Homo sapiens: one gene and its partners. The protein of the gene in region 1 purifies or fractionates together with the protein of each later gene. This does not show direct contact. Each region holds a gene or a part of one and is shown in the gene's direction. Other genes may lie near its edges. The genes, in order: TAFA3, MAPK9, PPP1R10, COL6A2, DPYSL5, TFCP2 and TRAPPC9.

Evidence for each region.
Region 2: the proteins of TAFA3 (region 1) and MAPK9 purify together in Homo sapiens (affinity purification with mass spectrometry; 2 studies listed by BioGRID and IntAct, with this or other methods). This does not show direct contact.
Region 3: the proteins of TAFA3 (region 1) and PPP1R10 purify together in Homo sapiens (affinity purification with mass spectrometry; 2 studies listed by BioGRID and IntAct, with this or other methods). This does not show direct contact.
Region 4: the proteins of TAFA3 (region 1) and COL6A2 purify together in Homo sapiens (affinity purification with mass spectrometry; 2 studies listed by BioGRID and IntAct, with this or other methods). This does not show direct contact.
Region 5: the proteins of TAFA3 (region 1) and DPYSL5 purify together in Homo sapiens (affinity purification with mass spectrometry; 2 studies listed by BioGRID and IntAct, with this or other methods). This does not show direct contact.
Region 6: the proteins of TAFA3 (region 1) and TFCP2 purify together in Homo sapiens (affinity purification with mass spectrometry; 2 studies listed by BioGRID and IntAct, with this or other methods). This does not show direct contact.
Region 7: the proteins of TAFA3 (region 1) and TRAPPC9 purify together in Homo sapiens (affinity purification with mass spectrometry; 2 studies listed by BioGRID and IntAct, with this or other methods). This does not show direct contact.

The regions. Positions count from the first base shown.
Region 1 is NC_000001.11:112,724,820-112,727,735, forward strand, and holds the end of TAFA3 (chemokine-like protein TAFA-3 isoform 1 precursor), read left to right. Parts: intron 1-1,809; coding exon 1,810-1,821; coding exon of another isoform or gene 1,822-1,861; 3' UTR 1,862-2,416; downstream 2,417-2,916. UniProt on the Homo sapiens protein: Plays a role in the regulation of microglia polarization.
Region 2 is NC_000005.10:180,233,084-180,236,583, reverse strand, and holds the end of MAPK9 (mitogen-activated protein kinase 9), read left to right. Parts: intron 1-52; coding exon of another isoform or gene 53-57; coding exon 58-200; 3' UTR 201-3,441; downstream 3,442-3,500. UniProt on the Homo sapiens protein: Serine/threonine-protein kinase involved in various processes such as cell proliferation, differentiation, migration, transformation and programmed cell death.
Region 3 is NC_000006.12:30,603,744-30,607,243, reverse strand, and holds part of PPP1R10 (serine/threonine-protein phosphatase 1 regulatory subunit 10), read left to right. Parts: intron 1-387; coding exon 388-465; intron 466-602; coding exon 603-776; intron 777-1,000; coding exon 1,001-1,106; intron 1,107-1,208; coding exon 1,209-1,321; intron 1,322-2,149; coding exon 2,150-2,250; intron 2,251-2,508; coding exon 2,509-2,656; intron 2,657-2,732; coding exon 2,733-2,891; intron 2,892-2,989; coding exon 2,990-3,236; intron 3,237-3,400; coding exon 3,401-3,464; intron 3,465-3,500.
Region 4 is NC_000021.9:46,104,612-46,108,111, forward strand, and holds part of COL6A2 (collagen alpha-2(VI) chain isoform 2C2 precursor), read left to right. Parts: intron 1-3,500. UniProt on the Homo sapiens protein: Collagen VI acts as a cell-binding protein.
Region 5 is NC_000002.12:26,942,132-26,945,631, forward strand, and holds part of DPYSL5 (dihydropyrimidinase-related protein 5), read left to right. Parts: intron 1-411; coding exon 412-619; intron 620-2,524; coding exon 2,525-2,693; intron 2,694-3,500. UniProt on the Homo sapiens protein: Involved in the negative regulation of dendrite outgrowth.
Region 6 is NC_000012.12:51,163,136-51,166,635, reverse strand, and holds part of TFCP2 (alpha-globin transcription factor CP2), read left to right. Parts: intron 1-3,500.
Region 7 is NC_000008.11:140,370,745-140,374,244, reverse strand, and holds part of TRAPPC9 (trafficking protein particle complex subunit 9), read left to right. Parts: intron 1-3,064; coding exon 3,065-3,281; intron 3,282-3,500. UniProt on the Homo sapiens protein: Functions as an activator of NF-kappa-B through increased phosphorylation of the IKK complex. May function in neuronal cells differentiation. May play a role in vesicular transport from endoplasmic reticulum to Golgi.

The DNA.
Region 1 (2,916 bases):
AAAAAAAAAAAAAAAAAAAAAGAGCTTAAAACAGAACTACCATTCAACCCAGCCATCCTATTACTGGTATATACCCAAAGGAAAATAAATCATTTTGCCAAAAAGACACATGCACTTGTATGTTCATCAAAGCAGTATTCATAATAGCAAGGGCATATAATCAGTCTAGGTGCCAATCAACATTGAATAGGATAAAGAAAATGTGGCACTTATATACCATAGAATACTACACAGCCATAAAAAAAATAATGTTTTCTGTAACACCCTGGTTGCAGCTGAAGGCCATGATCCTAAGGGACTTAGCATGGCAACGGAAAATCAAATACCACATGTTCTCACTTCTGAGAGCTAAACATTGGGTACACATGGACATAAAGATGGGAACAGTGGACGATGGTGACTACCAGAGCAGTGAGAGAGGGAGGGGAGCAAGGGCTGAAAAACTACCTATTGGGTCCTATGCTTACTACATGGGTAATGAGATCAATGGCACTCCAAACCTCAGTGTCATGCAATATACTCATGTAACAAACCTGCACATGTAATCCCTGAATCTAAAATAAAAGTTGAAATATTAAAAAAAAAAAAAAAAAAAACATAGTCGAGAATGGGAAAAATTATAAGATAATTGAGGGAGGAATTGCTACTTCTACCTGAGCTCCAGGTACAGTAGTCACTCTGTCACTCACCTCTGCCGTGACCATCCCCCACCCCCACCCCATTCCCACTGTTGTTGACTCCCTACAGTTCATACCTACCCTCCTCTAGTCAGATTTCTCTGTCCACTGTCACAGCACCCAAGAGGATTATTATTTTCATGGTTTGCTGCCTGCTCCACAGAACAAGGGGTAATTAAATTTTTTATCAAACTCGTTAGCAGCTCCATGTGTGTCATGGCTAATCAGCCGCATTGCTCTGCCGTCACCATTGGTACAGAAGAGTGACACTGCAGGGCAAGCCAGGGTTCTGCCTTTGGCTTTCCTTCCCTCCCACCACACACAGCAAACAAGCAAACACATAAGAAAATAGAGAAGGAGGGCTGGGTGCGGTGGCTCATGCCTGTAATCCCAGCACTTTGGGAGACAGAGGTGGGTGAATCAAGAGGTCAGGAGTTCAAGACCAACCTGGTCAACATGGTGAAAACCCGTCTCTACTAAAAATACAAAAATTAGCTGGGCATAATGGCACACGCCTGTAATCCCAGCTACTTGGGAGGCTGAGGCAGGAGAATTGCTTGAACCTAGGAGGCAGAAGTTGCGGTAAGCAGAGATCATGCCACTGCACTCCAGTCTGGGCGACAGAGTGAGACTCCATCTCAAAAAAAGAAAAAAAGAAAAAAAAATAGAGAAGGAAAGGCAGCCTTTGGCTTCTGAAGAGAGCAACCATTTTCACAGAGCACACAACAAAAGGAGCTACAGCAAGAAAAAGTTTGGCTCTAAAGTAGAGCATCCTCTCTCTATCCGGAGGCAGGGATGAGGGACAGCCATTCTGAGTATATTTAAGATCAGAAGAGAATGAGACCCACTACAGAGCTTGTGACATTTGTCACCATGTTATAGGTTTGGGTTTGTGGCCTGTAAGGAAGTGCTTGCAATTTGGGTAGCTACTCTGAAGCAAACAGTGGGGAGGCTTGTCTGACGTATGTTTGCATGGGTCACCAGGCCATGCTTTCCCATTCCGGCCTGCTTTAGGGTGAGAGGATTGGCAGCAATGTCCTCTAAGTGACCTGCATATTCTGGGTAGTCTCTGGCATGCTGGAATGGAATAGGCATTCCCTTCTCTAACCTTACCCTCTCGCTTCTTCACCAGGTCACACGATAGCTCTTGGGGGTCACGGCCTGGACAAGAAAGGCTTGACTGAGCCGTGAACTGAAGAATGGTATCCAGTCATCAGCCAGGAAAGATGGGGATTCACTTACATGCCTCATGTCAAATGCAGCATCAGTCTTTCCGGGGCATTTCAGTTAAGCTGCTCAGCAGATATGGATGGATCTGCAATCACATACCTAATGTGGAGCTGGGCTTTTCTGGAGACACGAAGGTCAACACACAATTCCTGCCCTTAAGGAATGTCCAGTTGAATTGGAGAGTTGATGACAGACAATTTAGATAATTTAGGTTAAAGTACTTGATACCAGACTGCGGCTTCTGGGCCACATGCTATGGCATGATGGGGGTTTGGGAATGAGATTCCCACAGTTCTTCAGATACCCTGTGGCCACAGGGCATAGAAACAAGAGGTCACATTCAGCACCCACCACCTCCCTCTTTCGCATCAGTTCTGAATCCCCAGCAAGCTGTTAACATGTTGCAGGAAAACACTCTCCCCTTATGCCAGACCAGCAGTATCTCATTTGGATGGGATTGGATTGACTTGCGGAAGGAAAGTAAAAATAAAGCCAAATAACTTCCCAAATCTTTGGCACAGGTATGGGCCATTCATTGGGTATGGGATGGACAGGACTTTAAAATCATCTCCATCCAAGCACCTCAGGTTTTTGTTTGTTTGCTTATTTTAACAGATGAGGAAGCAGCTCCAGAGAGGTGAGGCAGTTTGCCCAAGATCTCATAGCCTGGGCTCCCAGACCTCTAAGACTGATGACTTTCCACTAGCCTGAATAATAGGATTCCAACGTAGGCCTCCCATGTTAATTTTATGTCAAGTTACTGGAACCAGCAAAGTACAGGCTGGACAGCAGCAACATTTTTCTTGGGAGATGCTAGAGCAGAGACTTTTACTAAGGTCACTGTTCTCCTGTCTGAAATAATCCAGAATATCCACACACCGGGATGTGGGACCATCTGGTCTCCACTCTACTCTCATCCTCCAAATTTCAAGCAGGCCTTATGACACCCAGAGGTCACTCAACTCAGTTACAGCTGGGGCTCAGCTGGCATCTCCATTGCCCACTCTGA
Region 2 (3,500 bases), on another chromosome or scaffold:
TGGATTTGCAGCAATGTCGTGCCTCAGATTTTATTATATTTGGTTTTCTTAGCACAGATGCAGCAGTAAGTAGCAACGCCACTCCTTCTCAGTCTTCATCGATCAATGACATTTCATCCATGTCCACTGAGCAGACGCTGGCCTCAGACACAGACAGCAGTCTTGATGCCTCGACGGGACCCCTTGAAGGCTGTCGATGATAGGTTAGAAATAGCAAACCTGTCAGCATTGAAGGAACTCTCACCTCCGTGGGCCTGAAATGCTTGGGAGTTGATGGAACCAAATAGAAAAACTCCATGTTCTGCATGTAAGAAACACAATGCCTTGCCCTACTCAGACCTGATAGGATTGCCTGCTTAGATGATAAAATGAGGCAGAATATGTCTGAAGAAAAAAATTGCAAGCCACACTTCTAGAGATTTTGTTCAAGATCATTTCAGGTGAGCAGTTAGAGTAGGTGAATTTGTTTCAAATTGTACTAGTGACAGTTTCTCATCATCTGTAACTGTTGAGATGTATGTGCATGTGACCACAAATGCTTGCTTGGACTTGCCCATCTAGCACTTTGGAAATCAGTATTTAAATGCCAAATAATCTTCCAGGTAGTGCTGCTTCTGAAGTTATCTCTTAATCCTCTTAAGTAATTTGGTGTCTGTCCAGAAAAAGTCGATTTATGTGTATTAATTGGCCATCATGATGTTATCATATCTTATTCCCTTTTATGCTATGATTTATTCTATCTTTTGTATTTCAGAAGACATATAATTAAATCTATTTAATAAATAAAAATATATAGCTTTTCTTAGATTTGTGATGTTTGGGGCTGAGAATTATCACGGCTAAAACCAAGACACTTATGTGGACATCTTGTTTTCTTTAAACTGTCTTGTCTGGGATGATTGTACATTCAGCTTTACTGCACGATACAATTTTAAGTTTTGCTTAGTGCTGCTTGAAATCCTAGCTACCTTATCTCTTTTCTTCTTGGTCTTCTAGACTTCTTATGAATTTAAAATGCTACCTAGAACTTCACCTTCTTTATTAGGTGCGTAACACTCCATCTTAATTAAATATGATGGCAGATAGGTTCCTGCATCCATGGCCTAACGTTGGAGTGGAATTTTACAAAATGCTCACTAGAGATCACTGCAGTCATTTCCTAAGTGCTTCCTTTGCCACAGACTGGCCTGGGTCCTTTATTTACCTTCCCTCATTCACTTTCCCTCGGCCAATACCACGTTCTTGATTTTCTTTCTTCACTGGAAGAAAGCAGATAAACTCCTCTTTGGTCTGTTTTCAGAGGCCAGGCTGATTCAGATGCCTGTTGCTATTGTTGCTCTCCATTGTTGGGAGGCATTCCTTTTCACAAGAATGTTCTGGGAAACTCTTCAGAGGACGTGAAGGAAATACCCTGAAGAGTCATGATTAACTATTGACTATTTTCTGATTTAAAACTGCTCACCTGAAATTGATACTTTTAGACTTTACGATCAGTAAATTATTCAGAATTCATGAAGATGCTGAGTATGTTAAGTGTCACTGCAGGAACGGAGCTGTGGTGATCACGTTTTGCCTGCCTGTGCCCATGTCTCTTCCCTTGAGCTTATTCTGTTGCTGATTCATATCTTGTGTTCAATTATTTTGGAAGCTTTTCAGTCGACATTCTGTAGAGTGTGTTCTGAGGAGGAACTGTGATAAGAAAGTTTATTATAAATATTATGTAAAATATATGGCTCTCTCTGCACCAGTTATATCTTATTGGTTGGTCATATCACTGGAAACTGGAACCTTTGATTAGCAAAATTAATATTGAAATAAGAAATAGTTCTTTTATATTGTGTCATTTGGACACTTTCAAGTACAAAATGGTAATAATAACTTGGATTGAGGCGGAAACACCTATTTTATGGCTATCTATCTAAACATCTTAAAATGGCCTTCTCTGTAATACACTTTCTTTTAAAAGACTTCACTAAATCTATCTTTAAAAGGAAAAACAAAAGGGAGAGGTTGAAAATGCGCGAGCTGCCCTGCACTGTGTGATGCTCCCTCCCCGGGAGACGTGGACGGGGGACGAGGCACCCGCAGACGCCCTTCTGCTCACTCGCTCCTCTGTGCATTCAGCGAGCCACTTGCCACAGATGGAGCCCGTGACGGTGTGGAGGGTTTCCTGGAAAGGCCATCTTCCACCAGGTAGAGGCGAGCGTGCCTAGGACAGGCCACAGGGCTCCACAGAAATACCTCACCCCAGCTTCAGGGTTCTCTCTCCTGAGCCTAGATTTGCCAGGGTCTTGGTGCCACGCAAATGGTTTCAAACTGATCTCTATGGATAAATGCTGATGTTGGTTAAAGAACTGAAAAATGTGCTCAACTGTTTCATCTTTTCTATTTTATTTTTGTAATTTATATTGTACACAACCCAGGAAGTAACTATTTTGGACATGTATTTTTATAAACCAGGTAATTTACTATTATCCTGGAATTTAGACTAGGTTTGTTTCATTTGTTGACTTAGTTTCCAGCCAAGAAGGAAACGACTGTCTCCCCCATGTCCAGGTCTCAGTTTCAAGGGCAGAGTCCAGAGAGCAGACAGAGTTCTGTGAGAGCAGGAGAGCAGTCTGGAAACCCTGGCTGTGCATACCGTGTCAGCCGTGGGCCTGGAGATGGGAGCAGGTGAGACGCAGAGCCCCAGTACTGAGAGGAGGAAGCCCTCTTACAGGGCCCCTTGCCCACCCCAAGTCCGTGTCTGAAACACGGAGCGGGTGCTGCTTCAACCCGCATTTAATGCTGTGTAAGTAGCGATAACCACGTACGAGTCTGTCTGGTTGATTTCTAATGTGACTCCTCTGGTATTTCCTCCTGGTAATAAATACAAGTGTGACCTTTCAGATTGCATATCTCAAAAGTAACATTGCTAATGTTTTATAATAAAATATATTATGTGTGTTTTGGTTGGTGAAAATAATACAGACTACATTTTAAAAGATAAATGTATAGCATGTCCAATTTTTGTGTGTTTTTACATGGCAATTAGATATTTCTCCATCACCATCTCTGATGACAGATTTAACATGAACACAGATAGATGATAAAGTGTCATGCTTTTGATCAATATTAGCAAGAGGTTTCACACTGAGAGGCAGAAACATTGCTGTTTGTTCTCTTATTGAAAATATTCTGCAAATTCCTAAATCTGTGTTTTCAAAACTAATGGCAGTAAGTTTTGACTTCACCAATATGCAGGTCCAATTCAGAGTATTGGTGTAATTGTTTTCTCATGAGGCGTGGCCAGGAGAATTCACCAGTCAGCCTTAGTCATGTTACTTAACGTCATTCATGGTGCTTGTGGCTTTGTGCCTGGGATGAGCCAAGTTCATCTGACGTCTGTGTTTGAAGCACTTCAGGCTGTTTAGTACTTAATACCACAGGAGTGGAAGGACACTCAGTGGCTCACTTTCTTTTCTCTGCTTAAAAGGACTAGAAGCATTCCAGAGAGATGA
Region 3 (3,500 bases), on another chromosome or scaffold:
TGGATTTTGGTTACATGTATAAGTTCTTTAATGGTGATTTCTGAGATTTTGGTACACTCATCACCCAAGCAGTGTACACTGCACCCAACGTGTAGTCTTTTACTAATGTAGATTTTAACCACATATTCTGAAATATTAGGTCTTTTTACTCCAGAGTGGTGTGATGACATCAGAGTTGAAAGTTATCCAAGTAGAACACAACTCTAATTCATTGTTCCATTTTTTAAGGGTTTGGTTTTTAAGCATATCTCATGTTCTTCTTAAAACTTTGGGTTACTTTCTCCGTTACATAAATTTTCACAATATTTTCTCAAACCTCCCATTTTCTGTTCCTGGAAGAATGTTACTTTACATTATTTAGGCATTTCCCCTTTCTGTCACCTGCAGAGCTCCGGAAATTGGCCTCAGTCCTTGTCAGCGACTGGATGGCTGTCATCCGCTCTCAGAGCAGTACCCAGCCTGCTGGTAAGCTCCTTAGTCCTTTATCCTTTGTATTTATTTCTTTCCTATTGGGATGTGGCCTTTAGGTGCTCCCAGTCTGCTTCACCTCTGACAGTGTTCATCTAAATAAAATCCTTTTCTGCTTTGTTTTTTCACAACAGAGAAAGATAAGAAGAAACGTAAAGATGAAGGAAAAAGTCGAACTACCCTTCCTGAGCGACCTTTGACAGAGGTGAAGGCTGAGACCCGGGCTGAGGAGGCCCCAGAGAAGAAGAGGGAGAAGCCCAAGTCTCTTCGCACCACAGCACCCAGTCATGCCAAGTTCCGTTCCACTGGTAAGACTGGCGGCTGGCCTCTGGAGGGTTCATGGGCATGTGCACACCCAGAGCCTTATGGGGGAATCATTTGATGTGTGGTATGTTAATCGTAAGGAAGAGGGAAGACTAGCAGAGGAAGCTTTGGTTACAAGGCTAGAAGAACATTTGCGGGTGAGAACGGGAGGAAAATTCGGGGGTCTGGGGTTTGAGTTCAGCTGCCCACACCGTGCTTCTTTCCCCAGGACTAGAGCTGGAGACACCATCCTTGGTGCCTGTGAAGAAGAATGCCAGCACAGTGGTGGTTTCTGACAAGTACAACCTTAAACCCATCCCCCTCAAACGTCAGAGGTATGGACCATATTCTCAGGCTCTGAATGGGGTGGATCTGTGGACACAAGGGAGCAGGAGGGGGTGAGTCGGAGATGTTGATGACAGTTCCTCTTCTGACAGCAACGTAGCTGCTCCAGGAGATGCCACTCCCCCTGCAGAGAAGAAATACAAGCCACTCAACACAACACCTAATGCCACCAAAGAGATCAAAGTGAAGATCATCCCGCCACAGCGTGAGTCTAAAGTGGGGAAGATGTACTTTGAATTAGGAGCAAACTTTTTTTTTTTTTTTTTTGGAGACAGAGTCTCACTCTGTCACCCAGGCTGGAGTGCAGTGGCACGGTCTTGGCTCACTGCAAGCTCCGCCTCCCGGGTTCACGCCATTCTCCTGCCTCAGCCTCCCGAGTAGCTGGGACTACTGGTGCCCGCCACCACGCCCGGCTAATTTTTTGTATTTTTAGTAGAGATGGGGTTTCACCATGTTAGCCAGGATGGTCTTGATTTCCTGACCTCGTGATCCACCCACCTCAGCTTCCCAAAGTGCTGGGATTACAGGCATGAGCCACCGCACCTGGCCAGGAGCAAACTCTTATGGGAATGAATGTCCCTGGGAACGAGAAGTTTTTTCCCTTCTCTTTTATTATTTCCCTCCATTTTCCTTTGATTTCTTGGTATCCCTTACTTTTTGTACCTCTGGAACTCCCGTTTCAGGGGTCACTTAGGAGTAATTTTAGAGATAAGATAGGGACGTGTGCCATTCTGTGACTGGTCAGGGGCACCTGGTAAGGTGATCTGTCATGTTCACAAGGGCTCACTTCGTCAGCTACCTGAGCTATAATTCACATCCAAAGCTATGGCTTGCCTGCCATGAGAAACCTAGAATAACAACAAGAATATCCTGTGTGAATCCTCCTGCATGTGCTTCCTGGTCCTCTTGAGCTTATCGTGTCCTAAGTTGAGGCAGGGTCTTCACTGGCTCATTTTATGCCTGGACTGTGTTTGCAGGTGTAGGATTATGAAGGAGGTCTGATGATGCCATTTGGTGCTCTTTCTTTTTGTAGCTATGGAGGGCCTGGGCTTTCTGGATGCTCTTAATTCAGCCCCTGTTCCAGGCATCAAAATTAAGAAGAAAAAAAAAGTACTGTCACCTACGGCTGCCAAGGTATGGGCTCCCAGAAGTAGGTTTCAGTGACAGAGTATAAAAGGTAAAGTAGAAGAAAGGGCACAGCAGCTAGGAGTTGTCGGGGAGGACAACAAGAGGCGTTTTGCCTTGGATATAGACTGGTGCAGGTGAGACATTGTGGAGACAGAGTCTTCCTTTATATAGGAACTGTTGGGGGACTGTGCCTGGGACCCTGGACTAATTGCCTTGCCCTTGGCTTTCCAGTCAGTTCATTAACTTCCTTTTCTTTCACAATAGCCAAGCCCCTTTGAAGGGAAAACGAGCACAGAACCAAGCACAGCCAAACCTTCTTCCCCAGAACCAGCACCACCTTCTGAGGCAATGGACGCAGACCGTCCAGGCACCCCGGTTCCCCCTGTTGAAGTCCCGGAGCTCATGGATACAGGTAATCTAGAAACTGGTTCAGTTTGGGGGGTTTTCTGAAAGGAGGGATCTGGGTCTGAAACCTCTTCTGCTTCCAGCCTCTTTGGAGCCAGGAGCTCTGGATGCCAAGCCAGTGGAGAGTCCTGGAGATCCTAACCAACTGACCCGGAAAGGCAGGAAGAGGAAAAGTGTGACATGGCCTGAGGAAGGCAAACTGAGAGAATATTTCTATTTTGAATTGGATGAAACTGAACGAGGTAAGAGGTCATTTCCTACGTAATAGGTGTGTTTAAGGGATTTTGAAAGGACTTGGTTGTGCTTACTTTCCCTCTTGCTTTTCTTCCCCTGCCGACAGTAAATGTGAATAAGATCAAGGACTTTGGTGAGGCGGCTAAGCGAGAGATACTGTCAGACCGACATGCATTTGAGACAGCGCGGCGTCTGAGCCATGATAACATGGAGGAGAAGGTGCCCTGGGTGTGCCCCCGGCCCCTGGTTCTGCCCTCACCTCTTGTCACCCCTGGAAGCAATAGTCAGGAGCGATATATCCAGGCTGAGCGGGAGAAGGGAATCCTTCAGGAGCTCTTCCTGAACAAGGAGAGGTGAGCAGAGTGGGGTTCGTGCCCTGGGATGTTGAGTGCTTGGACACTCCTGAGGGAACATGAGCTGGGGTAATTACGGGGTGGAGGTTAGAAATTACTTTCAGGGTCTGAATTAATAACTTGACTATCATTCTTTTTTCTCTCACCTGTGTTGTTCCTGATAGTCCTCATGAGCCTGATCCTGAGCCCTACGAGCCCATACCCCCTAAACTCATCCCCCTAGATGAGGTAAGTCAATGTTCTGTGATGATGGAAGTTGTGATG
Region 4 (3,500 bases), on another chromosome or scaffold:
GACTATTTGAAGAAATAATGGCTGAAAACTTCTAAAATATGATGAATGACATGAATATAACCATCCAAGAAGCCCAAAAAGCTCCAAGCAGGATGAACTCAAAGAGACCCACACTGAAACATTCTAATCAAATTGTCAAAACCCAAAGACAAAGATTTTGAAAACAGCAAGAAAGAATGATTCATCACATGTAAGGAATCCTCAATAAAACTATTAGCAGATTTCTGATCAGAAACTTTGAAGGCCACAAGGCAGTGGGCCAATATATCCAAAGTGCTAAAAGAATAAAAACTGTCTACCAAGAAGCCCACATCCAGCAAAACTGTCCTTTAAAAGTAAGGGAGAAATTAACACATTCTTAGATCAACAAAAGCTGAGAATGTTCCTTACCACTAGACCTGCCCTATAGGAAACGCCAAAGGGAGTCCTGCGGGTTGAAATAAAGGGTGATAGACAGTAATTCAAGTGAAGAAGTAAAGATCTCAGCCAGGCATAGTGGCTCATGCTTGTAACCCCATCACTTTGGGAGGCCGAGGCAGGAGGATAACTTGAGCCCAGGAGTTCAAGACCAGCCTGAGCAATATAGGGAGACCCTATCTCTATAAAATAAAAATATTTTTAAAAATCGACCAAGCATGGTGGTGCACACCTGTGGTCCCAACTACTGGGGAGGCTGAGGTGGGAGAATCATTTGGGCCTGGGAGGTTGAAGCTGCAGTGAGCTGTCACCACACCACTGCACTCCAGCCTGGGCAACAGAGCAAGACCTTATCTCAAAATAAATAAATAAATAAATATCTCAGTAAAGGTAAATATATAGACAATTATAAAAGCTAATATTGCTGTAACAATGGTGTGTAATGCTGCTTTTTGTTTTCTACATAATTTAAGAGACTGATTTAAAAATAACATTATGCTTTTGGACACATAATATATAAAGGTGTAATTTTGTGACATCAATAACTAAAAGGGTTGGGGACAGAGCCATTCAGGGAGCAGAGTTTTGTTTATGCCATTGAAGCTAAACTGGTATAAATTCAGTGTAGACTGTTATAATTTTAGGATGTTAAAATGCAATCCCCATGGTAACAACAAAGAAAATAACTAAAGAATAAATACAAAAGGGAATGAGGAAGGGATTTAAATGTTTCACCATCAAAAAAATTAATTAAACACAAGACAGTGATACTGGAAATTAAGGACAAAAAAATCCATAAGGTATACAGAAAAAAAATGCAAAATGAAAGAAGTCCCTCTTTATCAGTAATTACTTTAGATGTAAATGGATTAAACTCTCCAAACTCTCTCTGTTAAAAGACAGAGATTGGCAGAATGGATTTAGAAAGCCAAATCCAACTATATGCTCTCTACAAGAGATGCACTTTAGATCCAGAAACATAAATAGATTGACAGTGAAAGGATGGGCAATGACATGCCACACAAATAGTAACCAAAAGAGAGCAAGAGTGGCTATACTAATACCAGACAAGATAGGCTTTAAATCAAAAAAGGTTACAAGAGGGAAAGAAGGACATCATATATTAATAAAAGGCTCAATACAGCAAGATATAATAATTATAAATATTTATGCACCTAATAACAGTCCATCAAAATATTTATATCTTACACTGGGAAGATTGTTGCTGGCTCTCAGTCTGCTTCCAGTCTGCTCATATTGCTTTTGTTGTAATGATGGTCATATGTGGGAGCTCAGTGTCAAGAGGGCAGACTTGAGCCCACACTGCCAGGCTTCAGACCTCAGCTATTAGCTGAGTGCCCTGGGCAAGTTACCTCACTGGGCCTTGGTTTCCTCATCTGTTGGAGTGGGGATGGTAATAGTACCTATGTCCAAGGCCATAAGTCCAATTGTGAATGTTGAATGAAGGGATATAGGACAGTATCTGGTACACAATTATTATAGATTTTTCATTGACATTTTATACATTCTGTTTTCTTCAAAGACTTTTTGGTTCCTGTTTTGCACTCAGATACTTCCTTTTCCTGGAGTTTATTTGGGAGCACCATGTGAGGTAGTACCTTTATTTCTAGTCACAGGGTGAGCCCTCATCCCAGCCTGCTTCCACCACTCTGAAAGGCCACCATGTCATAGCCTAAGTTCTCGTGTGTTGTTATGCCCATGGTTGTGTGGAGTGTTGGCCTGTTCCAGCACCAAAACCAAAACTGTAATTTTATCGTTTCATTTGATAGCACAAGCTTTCTCATCACTCTATTTTTTATTTTGCTCAACTCTTCTTGCTTTTTCTACCAAGTAAAACTTGGATTCATTTTGCAAACTCCTATCTACAAAAATGCAAAAAATTTTCTTGGAAACTTTAATTAAAATTGCATTCTATTATAGATTCAGTTAGGAATAACTGATATTTTTAAATCAGTTTAAGATAGTGGGATGATTTCTTATCCAAAAACAAGGTTTGTCTTTCCAATATATTTCTCAAAAATTTTTTTGAGTTTTTTTCATAAGTCCTGCACATTTTTATTCAGTTGATTCCTTGGGTTTATGTTGTTTTTCTTACTAGTGTAAATAGCATTTTTCTGCAACATTTTCTAACTGGTTGTTAGAAAATGTTTCTTCTAACTGATAGAAGAAAATCAATAACTTTTTGTATGTTGAGGACTAAGCTCTGATTTTTTTATCTTGCCTATATTCTTATCTAAGGGGTCTGGGGAGTCATGCCCTACAAACCATAAATTCTCATCAGATGGTTTTATCTAACCCTATATGCTGTGACTTACTTTCCATCTGACTCTGGCATGACACTACACGACCAAGAAGAAAATAAAAATATTTTACCCCAAAACATGTTTCTTTGCCACATTTTGAAATGGCCCTGCAAAGCTGTCCTTTACTGGGGAAAATTTGCATCTGTAAGGAATCTCTGTTAACATAGCTAGCTCTTTTTCTTCCAGGCCCTCCCAATTCTGAAGAGATTAACCGAGAGTCTAGCAGCTTTTAAAGGTCTCAGTAGGAAACACTTGTCATTGATTGTCTCTAAGGGCAGCCACTATGAGACTTCAGAAGAACCTTGGTCTCCACAGTCTTTTATCTTAACCTGAGCATTTCCTTTCTATGATCCCAGGTCTTTAGACAAACTCAACCAATTGTCAACCAGAAAATGTTTAAATTTACCTGTAGCCTGGAAGCCATCTCTCCCCGCTTTGAATTTTCCTGCCTTTCTGGATTAAACCAATGTATTTCTTAAATGTATTTGATTGATGTCTCATGCCTCCCTAAAATGAATAAAACCGAGCTGCACCCCAGCCACCTTGGGTACATGTTCTCAGGACCTCCTAAGGGCTGTGTCATGGGTCATGGCCACTCATATTTGGCTCAGAATAAATCTCTTAAAATATTTTACAGAGTTTGACTCTTTTCATCAATGATATATTTTTCTAAGTGGCTCACTAAATTTTCTCTCCCTAATCTCCCCTCCTTTCTCTTTCTTTCTCTCTTTCTCTCTGTCTATATATATATATATTTTT
Region 5 (3,500 bases), on another chromosome or scaffold:
GGATTTTGAAGAAGACTTGCATTACAGATCTCCAAAAGCATATAATTTTGCACTATTTCTAGCACAAAATATGGCCCTGGCCTACCGTTGGCCATCTTCTCCCTCCATCTTCACACAGTCTTTCTTCCGTGTCACACATGTCTGGTGTGTCTGTCTCCTCTTCTTATAAGGACACCGATAAGACTGGATTAGGGCCCACCTATATGACCTCACTTTATCTTAATGATTACATTAAAGGCCCTAAATAGTGCCATGTTCTGAGGTTCTGGGTGTTAGAACTTCAGCAGAAGAATTTTGAAGGGAGCCAATTCAACCCATAACAACCAGCCTTTGGGGCTCACCCCTCCCATGGAGCTGTGACATTTTGACCTGTCCTCAGCGCTTTCTCTCCCGCCATTGCCTCCCCACCAGGACCATCTCAGCCAGCACGCAGGTCCAGGGAGGAGACTTCAACCTGTATGAGAACATGCGCTGCCACGGCGTGCCACTGGTCACCATCAGCCGGGGGCGCGTCGTGTATGAGAACGGCGTCTTCATGTGCGCCGAGGGCACCGGCAAGTTCTGTCCCCTGAGGTCCTTCCCAGACACTGTCTACAAGAAGCTGGTCCAGAGAGAGAAGGTGAGGTGGGAGGAGGAAGATGCAGGGGTGTTGGCGCCCCCTGCCGGGGAACATCCTCCATGACTGTTTTAAATCTCAAAGAGATGTTCACTCCAGTTTTCGACCCAATTCCATTGCACTTTCTCCAGCGTTGAGAGGGGAGTGTGCGGCAGCGCCAGGGAACGCTAGAGTCAGAAAATGCTGATTTCTGTTCCCCGTCTTTGATTACCAAGTGGCATTTTAAGTGGTCAGGCAGCAGGGCTCCTGAGTTGCTGAGGGCACAAGTGGGAAATGTGAGTGTGTGCGACCGCTGAGCTCCTCTGGATACGCAGGCTTGGGGTGGAGGAGGTGCTGGGGGCTGGAGATGCTGCTTTGGCTCGGCTCCCTCCCACTCTTGATGAAGCAAGCGGGGGGTAGAGCTGGCATTTGCAAAGCATTGTCTGAAGCACAGGAGGAGCAGGCACCTGAACACGGGAGGCCCACACTGCTGGCACACAGAGCACACGAGAGGGCTCAGAGCTTTCAGAGAAACCAAGGACCCTTCTCTCCCAGAGGCCAATGAGTGAAGAAATCCACTGCCAGGTCTGCCGTGGGAGCGCAGGCTTGGGCTGCCTGAATGAAGAAAGCGTGACTTTCGTGATCGCAGGGCTAAATCCAAAAGCAAACTCAGGGTCTCTTACTCATCACACTCAGCTAATGTTTACTTTTTTGTGGAGATGGACGGGGTTTAACCGTGTTGCTCGGGTTGCTTTCAAATTCCTGGGCTCAAGTGATCCGTCTGCCTCGGCCTCCTAAAGTGCTGGGATTACAGGCGTGAGCCACTGTGCGCGGCCCAATAACACTTTTTAATACGATGTAGGACCATAAATGACCTCTGCAGTAATAACTGCTCGTACTTCTGTGTTGCCTCTCATGTGCCAGAGCAGTTGGAACAGCTTTACACATATTAATTCGTCTGCTCTCCTGCAACTCTCTGATGTAGGTATAGTATTATGGGCACAGAAAAGTAACTTGCACAAAGCCACACAGTTTACAAGTGACAGAGTTGGGATTGGAACCTAGGCAGTCTGGTTGTAGAATATAGACTCCTAACTCTACTGCCTTTGTGAGTACAGAATTAGCTAGTATTGCTACTGGGGGCCTCTCATCTCCAGATGGGGCTGTGTTTAGCCTCTGTTCCCTCAGAGTTGTCAGACCAGTAAAGGGTGTGGCTTCGTGGGAGCCTAAGGTGGGGAATAACGTTGCGCTGTGTGGGAGGGCGCTCTCTAAAATTGACTTCCGGTTGGGCATGGTGGCTCACGCCTGTAATCCCGGAACTTTGGGAGGCCGAGGCGGGTGGATCACGAGGTCAGGAGTTCAAGACCAGCTGGCCAAGATGGTGAAACCCCGTCTCTATTAAAAATACAAAAATTAGTCAGGCACGGTGGCAGGCGCCTGTAATCCTAGCTACTTGGGAGGCTGAGGCAGGAGAATCACTTTGCGGGGGCGGAGGTTGCAGTGAGCCAAGATCGCACCACTGCACTCCAGCATGGGCGACAGAGTGAGACTCTGTCTCAAAAAAAAGAAAAGAAAAATTTGGTTAAAGTTGACTTCCTCAGATGTCTACCTGCTACCTCGGTGAGGCTTCCATCAGTGTTGAGGGGGAGCCAGTATCTCTCCCATACACATGCATGCACACACACATGTGCACTCACATACATGCACGCATGCACACATGTACACATATGCACATGCTCTTTAGGAGGTATGAGAAAACTCCAGCCCCTGGACTCAATGTTTAAGAAGCCTTGGTCACTTGCAGTGATTTGGGTCTTGGGCAGAGTGGCAGTGTCTAATGTCCCACCGGCCCCCAGGGAGGCCATGGTTGTATCACTCAGCTCTGATGGTGTTGTCCTGTTCTTCTGCTCTTCTTCCATCCTTCCCTAGACTTTAAAGGTTAGAGGAGTGGACCGCACTCCCTACCTGGGGGATGTCGCTGTTGTCGTGCACCCTGGGAAAAAAGAGATGGGAACCCCACTCGCAGACACTCCTACCCGGCCCGTCACCCGGCATGGGGGCATGAGGGACCTTCACGAATCCAGCTTCAGCCTCTCTGGTAAGAGTCAGGGGGCCACGGGAGGAGGATGGGGGTCTGGGAGAAGTGGCCCACCTAGGCAGTGGGACTTACGCCTGCTTTTCTTTTGTGTCCTCTCCTCCCTCCCGTTGCCTATTTCCAGGGATGAGTGCTGGTTTGGATATTAGACTCACATAGACATTAGTGGGGACAGGAGGGCTGTCCTGGTCCCTGGGCACAGACGCTCTAATAGGCCATGGCCCACCTGGGGCTCTGCTCGGGGTTTCTAAGTTCAGATATTTTTGTCCCTTGAAACATCTTGAGGGCTGTGCACACAGTGGGTGCTCCAGAGATGCCCTGAGCTCAGAAGAGTCAGCCCTGTCTGTGGTTCACGGGACTGCACCGACCAGCCCTTCGCCCACCCCAGCCCACTCCTCACCAGCCTCTCTACTCCTTCTGCTACCCCCTCTCCTCCTCTGACCTTCCCACACCTTTCCCCGCCTTTGCCTCACCTTCACCTTCTTTTTTTTTTTTTTACCAGGAATTGTATTGTATATATTTTATTAACTTTAAGTAAAATATTTTCTCTCGACTTCTGATGCCCAGTTTTTTCTCTTATCTTTCTGTCCTTTGGGTCCTGGCCCCAGTCCTTCTGTGGAATCTCTGGGTTCCTTGGGGGGTGCGATCCCAGTTCTTAAAGCCACGATCTGCAGTTTCCCGCCCCCCCGTCCCCCCCCGCACCCATCACCATGCGAGCCACGGGCTCATAAATGATGATCCTCAGTGGAGAACAAGCAGAGGCTGTAAGATGCCTCGGGCCTCCAGGTGGCTTAGGTGGGAACTGTCACC
Region 6 (3,500 bases), on another chromosome or scaffold:
CTTCATAGGCCATGTGCAGAAAATGGCAGTGTTAACATGATCTAAGTGTGGAGTTTTTGTCCCTCTGACATGAAAAGGTCACTTTTTGGGCACTCATGCAGGTCCAGTTGAGGGATTGGTGGTCTCAACTGGGTAAGAGCTGTCCCCTAATTCCTGAAAAACAACTTTAAGCATCTGTTAATATAGTGACCCACAGTCAGAGATGTCATCTTTTTTTTCTTTCCTTTTTTTTTCTTTTGAGGCAGGGTCATGCTATGTTGCCCAGGCTGTTCACAGATGTTAACTTTTATTTATTTATTATTTATTATTATTATTATTTTTTGAGATGGAGTTTTCGATCTTGTTGCCCAGGCTGGAGTGCAATGGCATGGTCTCAGCTCACTGCAACTGCCTCCCAGCTTCAAGCGATTCTCCTGCCTCAGCCTCCCAAGTAGCTGGGATTACAGGCACATACCACCACACCCAGCTAATTTTTGTATTTTTAGTAGAGACGGGGTTTCACCATGTTAGCCAGGCTGGTCTCAAACTCCTGACCTCAGGTGATCCACCTGCCTTGGCCTCCCAAAGTGCTGGGATTACAGATGTGAGCCACCATGCCTGGCCAACTTCTTTGTTTGTTTGTTTGAGATGGGGTCTCACTCTGTTGCCCAGGCTGGAGTGCAGTGGCATGTTCATGGCTCACTGCAGCTTCGAACTCCCGGGGATCAAGCAGTCCTGCCTCAGCCTCCTGAGTAGCTGGGACTACAGGCATGTGCCACCATGCCCTACTCAGAGTTTTTCATAAATGCCGTTTTAGTGTTAAATAAGTTTCCTTCTATTCCTAGTTTGCTGAATATGTGTGTATGTGTGTGTTTATTGTGGTAAAATACACATAACATAAAATTCTATCATTTTAACCCTTTAAAAATGTCCAGATCAGTGTAATTAAGTACATTTACGTTGTTGTACAACTGTCACCATGATCTGTCTTCAGAACTTTTTCATCCCAAAGTGAAATGCTGTACCTATTAAACACTAACTTCCCATCTCCCCCCACTCCAGCCTCTGGCAACCACCATTCTACTTTCTGTGTCTATGAATTTGACTACTCTAAAAACCTCATATACGTGGGATCATATATTTGTCCTTTTGTGACTGACTTATTCACTTAGCATAATGTCTTTGAACTTTTGCTGAGTGTTTTTTTTTTTAATCTTAAAAGGGTATTGAATTTTTTCAAATATCTTTTCTGTGTCTGTTGAGATGATAATGTGGTGTATCACATTGATTGATTTCCTTATGTTGAACCACTCTTGCATTCCTGGGATAAATGTTGGTCATGGTATATAATCTTTTTAATGTACTGTTGGATCCAGTTTGCAGTTTGCTGTTATTTTCTTGAGGATTTTTATTTCTATATTCATATGGGATATTGGTTTATAGTTTTCTTATCATGTCTTTTTTTTAAGAGACCAAGTCTCCCTATGTTGCCCAGGCTGGTCTTGAACTCCTGGACTCAAGGGATCTTCCTGCCTCAGCCTCCCAAAGTGCTAGGATTACAGGTGTGAGCCACCATGCCCAGCCTGAATTTTATCGTATCTTTTTCTGGCTTTGGTGTCAGGGTGATGTTGGCCTCATAGAACGTTAGGAAGTGTTCCATTCTTTTCTGTTTTTTGAAGGAGTTCGAGTAGGATTGGTGTTAATTCTTTGAATATTTGGTAGAATTTGCCAATGCAGCCATGTGATACTGGACTTTTCTTTGTTGGGAGGTTTTTGTTTATCAATTCAATCTCTTATTATAGGTTTGTTGAGACTTTTAATTTTTTCTGAGTCAGTTTTGGTACTTTAATGTTTCTAAAAATTTGTCTCTTTTATCTAAATTATCTAATATGCTGGTTTAGTCATTCACAGTATTCTCTTATAATCCTTTCATTTATATAAAATTAGTAGTAATATCCCCAGCTTCATTTCTGATTTTATTTATTTTCATTTCATCTTCTTTCTTTTTCTCCCAGTCAGTCTGACAAGAGTTTGTTAATTACTTTTTTTTTTTTTTTTTCGAGATGGAGTCTTGCTGTGTCACCCAGGCTGGAGTGCAGTGGCATGATCTCAGCTCACTGCAACCTCCACCTCCCAGGTTCAAGCAATTCTCCTGCCTCAGCCTCTCCAGTAGCTGGGATTACAGGTGCCTGCCACCGTGCCCAGCTAATTTTTGTATTTTTAGTAGAGACAGGGTTTTACCATGTTGACCAGGCTGGTCTTGAACTCCTGACCTTGTGATCTGCCCGCCTCGGCCTCCCAAAGTGCTGGGATTACAGGCGTGAGCCACCATACCCGGCCAAGAGTTTGTAAATTCTGTTGATCTTTTTAAATAACAAATTTTTGGTTTCGTTGATTCTACTATTTTTATTCTTCTTGGTTTTTGTGGTTGTTGTTGTTTGTTTGTTTTTGAGAAATGGGGCCGTGCTCTGTTACCCAGGCTGGAATGATGCAGTGGTGTGATCATATGCACTGCAACCTCAAACTGCTGGGCTCAAGTGATCCTCCTACCTCAGCCTCCTGAGTAACTGAGACTACAGGCATGCATCACCAAACCCAGCTAATTTTTTTTTTAATTTCATAGAGATGGGGTCTCACTGTCTTGCCCAGGCCTTGAACTCCTGGCCTCAAGCGATCCTCCTGCCTCAGCCTCCCAAAGCGCTGGGATTACAGGTGTGAGGTACTGCACCTGCCTTATTTTTATTCTTTATTTCACTTATCTCTGCTCTAAACATTGTTATTCCCTCCCTTTGGTTGGGTCCAGTTTGTGCTTCTTTTTCTAGTTCCTTAAGGTCTGAAGTTAGAGTATTGACTTAAGGTCTTTCTTTTTTTTATCTCTGTTTTTATTTTTATTTTTTGTAGAGATGGGGGTTTCACTATGGTGCCCAGGCTTGTCTTGAGCTCATGGGCTCAAGCGATTCTCCCACCTCAGCTTCCCAAAGTGTTGGGATTAAAGGCATGAGCCACCATACCCTGCCTTCTTTCTAATATTTTATTATTGTTATTATTATTTATTTATTTATTTTTTGAGACAGAGTCTCGCTCTGTTGCCTGGGCTGGAGTACAGTGGCGTGATCTTGGCTCACTGCAACCTCTGCCTCCCAAGTTCAAGCGATTCTCCTGCCTCAGCCTCCCAAGTAGCTGGGATTACAGACATACACCACCACACCCAGCTAATTTTTGTATTTTTAGTAGAGACAGGGTTTTGCCACATTGGTCAGGCTGGTCTTGAACTCCCAACTTCAGGTGATCTGTCCGCCTTGGCCTCCCAAAGTGCTGGGATTATAGGCGTGAGCCACCGCGCCCGGCCTTATTACTATTATTTTTTAAGACAGGGTCTTGCTCTGTTGCCCAGGCTGGGGTGCAGTGGCACCATCACAGCTTTCACTTTCCAGATTCAGGCAATCCTCCCACCTCAGTCTCCCAAGTAGCTGGGACCATAGGCTCGTGCCACCATGCCTAGCTAATTTTTGTATTTTTTG
Region 7 (3,500 bases), on another chromosome or scaffold:
GCTGCTGTCCTCCAGCACTGGGGCTTCTGTTCGCTGCTGTACTGCACACTCCTGGAAAGGGACAGGCCATGTCCTACTCAAATTTGAATATTCACGGACCATAGACCTAGACAACAACTTCTAGATGAAAACATAGGATATCTTTGTGACCTCGGGCAAAGATTTTTCTCAGATGAGGACATAGAAGGCACTAACCATAGAAGAAAAAGCTGATAGATTGAGCTACATCACAGAGAAATGCTTTTGCTTATGAACACTCCCTTAGGGAAATAAATCGGCAACAGACCGGGAGGAAATATTTGCAAAACACATATAACTAAGGACTTGCATTCAGAATATATACAGAACTCGTACGACTCAGTAATAAAACAAACGATCTAATTTTAAAAACTGTCAGAAGATTTGAACAAGCGCTTCACAAAGGAAGATATACCAGTGGCCAGTGATCATATGAAAAAGGTTCAACATCATTAGTTTTCAGGGAAATGGAAGTTAAAGCCACCACAACGTCTAAAATAAAAAAGACTGATATCCTCATATGCTGGTGAGCAGGTGATATCCTCATATGCTGGTGAGCAGGTGATATCCTCATATGCTGGTGAGCAGGTGGAGCAACAGGGATTCTCACACATCGTCGGCGTCGGCATGACCTTTCACTGTAGGAAAAGTGGGGCTGGCAGAGATCCGATATGTAGGTAAATTGTGTGGGAGACACAGAGAAAGGACATTATGGAGTCCAGCATGGTTAGGAGAATTTAGGGAAAGAAGCAGCAGCTTCCCGCTGAAGGGCATGAGGACCAGCTTCTTGGAGAGGGTGGCATTGGAACCGAGTGTCCAAAGGGAGAGCCAGATGTGGCTGTGGAGGCATTGCAGGAGCAGAGAGCCTGTGTGCCCCGGCGGCGTCACCTAGTACAGCCTGCCTCATACGCTTCCACCCATGATTCTATGTCAAAGAGTATTTCATTGGACTTAGAGCAGCTATTTTGTTTATTTTTTCATTGATTTATTGTCATCCTCCCCACTGATTCTAAGCCAGGGGACTAGCCTGTCATTAGCATGGAGGCCCCCAGGGGTAGGAGTCTTAGCTTGTTTTGCTCACTGCTGTATCCTCTGCCACAAGAGTGGCTGGCACCAGAGTAGGGGTTCAGTAAATATGTGTTGACAGAATGAGAAAACAAATGAGTTAAAGTTGTTCAGTCTGGTGAGGTCATAGGTAGGCAGTGGGGCCTCGAATTTCCAGAGCAGGTTGGGGCTGAGGAGGGCCTGGCATGCCCGTGAAGGCATTTGGGCTCCATTTTACAGTCCTGAAGGGGTCTAGTGGTTTCAAGATGGGGATTGTCTTAGTCCGGTGAGGCTGCTGTCACAAAATGCCACAGACTGGGTGGCTGATAAACAATAGAAATGTATTGTGCACAGTTCTAGAGGCTAGAAGTCCATGATCCAGGTGCCAGCATGTTTGGTGTCTGGGGAGGGCCCACTTGCTTGTTCATAGACCGCCGTCTTTTCTCTGTGTTCTCACATGGTGCAACAGGTGAGCTAGCTCTTTAGGGTCTCTTCTTATAAGGGCACTAATTCCATTTGTGAGTGCTTCACCCCCTGACCCAATCACTTTTTAAAGTCCCCACCTCCTAATTCCATCACCTTGGGGGCTAGGCTTTCAACATGTGAATTTTGGGGAGGCACAAACATTCAAACCGTGGCTCGGGTGATGGGCTCTGAGCCATGTCTCAGGAACCTAAGTCTGGCAGGGGTGTGTGGACAGGTGAAGGAAGGTCGAGAGGTGGTAGGAAGACAATGCCGATTCCTCTTCCAGATGAGGGCTGACGAGGGCCCCATCGAGGCCATGGCAGTGAGCGCGGAGGAGAGGGGATGGAGGGAGGGTTTGGAGGCCCAAGTTGGAAGGGCGTTCAAGCTAAGGCTCTGTACTCACAGAAACATCAGGGAAACATTCATCGTCCAGGGCAGAGGAGGGAGAGAAGCGCTTCCTTAACAGTGCTCCTGGAGCAGCAGAGTGGGCTCTGCCTTCCTTCTTCTCTGAAGGCGCTGTGCAGTGGGCAGGGCCCAGGCCCAGAGTCAGGTCTTGTCCCTGATACTTCTTGGCTGTGTGATTTTGCACAGGTGATTAATGTGTCCCTGAGCTGTTAATGTCCTTATTTGCCAGCTCACAGGATGCTTGTATTGAGTAAATCAGGTACGTTAAGTCTGCTGCCATACAGTAGGTGCTGAAGAAACAGAAGTTGTTGGCTGGGCGTGGTGGCTCACACCTGTAATCCCAGCACTTTGGGAGACTGAGGCAGGCAGATCACCTGAGGTCAGGAGTTCGAGACCAGCCTGGTTAACATGGTGAAATCCCGTCTCTACTGAAAGTACAAAAATTAGCCAGCATGGGGGTGGGTGCTTGTAATCTCAGCTACACTGGAGGATGAGGCAGGAGAATCTCTTGAACCCGGGAGGTGGAGGTTGCAGTGAGCCAAGATCGTACCACTGCACTCCAGCCTGAGTGACAGAGTGAGACTCCGTCTCAAAAAAAAAAGAAAAGAAACAGAAGTTATGATTGCTACACTACAGGGTTGTTGGGAGGATTCAGTTGGGTCTTGGATGAAAGAAAACTTTTGTAAACCCTGAAGTCTTAAGTCTGATATCAGTGGTATTGTTAATAATTCATTACCCAGTTACATGATTCTGTGTCTTCTTGTGTTTTAAGAATTTTTGTGTTTGATGAGAGACCTTGATAAAATCCTGTTGTGTAGATGAACTCTTGTTCCTTTTCTTTTCTTTTGTGAAGGAACTTAAAGTAGAGGTCTCAGATTTGTAGCAGGTACCTTTGTAGCAGAGAATCTGGGCTTTATCAGCAGGAAGATGGGCTGCACCTGCAGCTGTGGCTGGGGAAGGTCTGAAGCCACCTGGGGCCTGCGCCATGCGCTGCTCACCAGGCTTTCCCTCTCCTTGATTCTCCTCGATTCTCCTCAGGTCTTTGTTTTATGAAGAGACATTTTTAATGTGTGCTTCTTTTTTCACTTATACGTTTCTTTCAAAAGCTTTTTACTTTCTCTCTGTGCTTCAGCTTTCTGAGGAAGAGAAAATTCAGCGCTACAGCATCCTCTCCGAGCTCTATGAGCTGATCGGCTTCCATCGCAAGTCTGCGTTCTTCAAGCGCGTGGCCGCCATGCAGTGCGTGGCCCCAAGCATCGCGGAGCCTGGGTGGAGGGCCTGCTACAAACTCCTCCTGGAAACGCTGCCCGGCTACAGTCTGTCGCTGGATCCCAAAGATTTCAGCAGAGGTACTGGAGTCCCCTTGCTGGCGCTAAGGTGTTGCTTTCTGTCTGATGGTCACATGCTGTTTCAGCCCCTGCCCTGAGTGGCAGACATCGTGGTTGGTGCTGGTGGCTCCAGAATGACTAGATCCCTGCCCTGGAGTTGGGTGCCTGCTGTAATCCGATTATAGGAAAAAGTACTGGTGCTTTGCCTTGGGGCTCGGATTCTTGAATCTTTATCAGTGG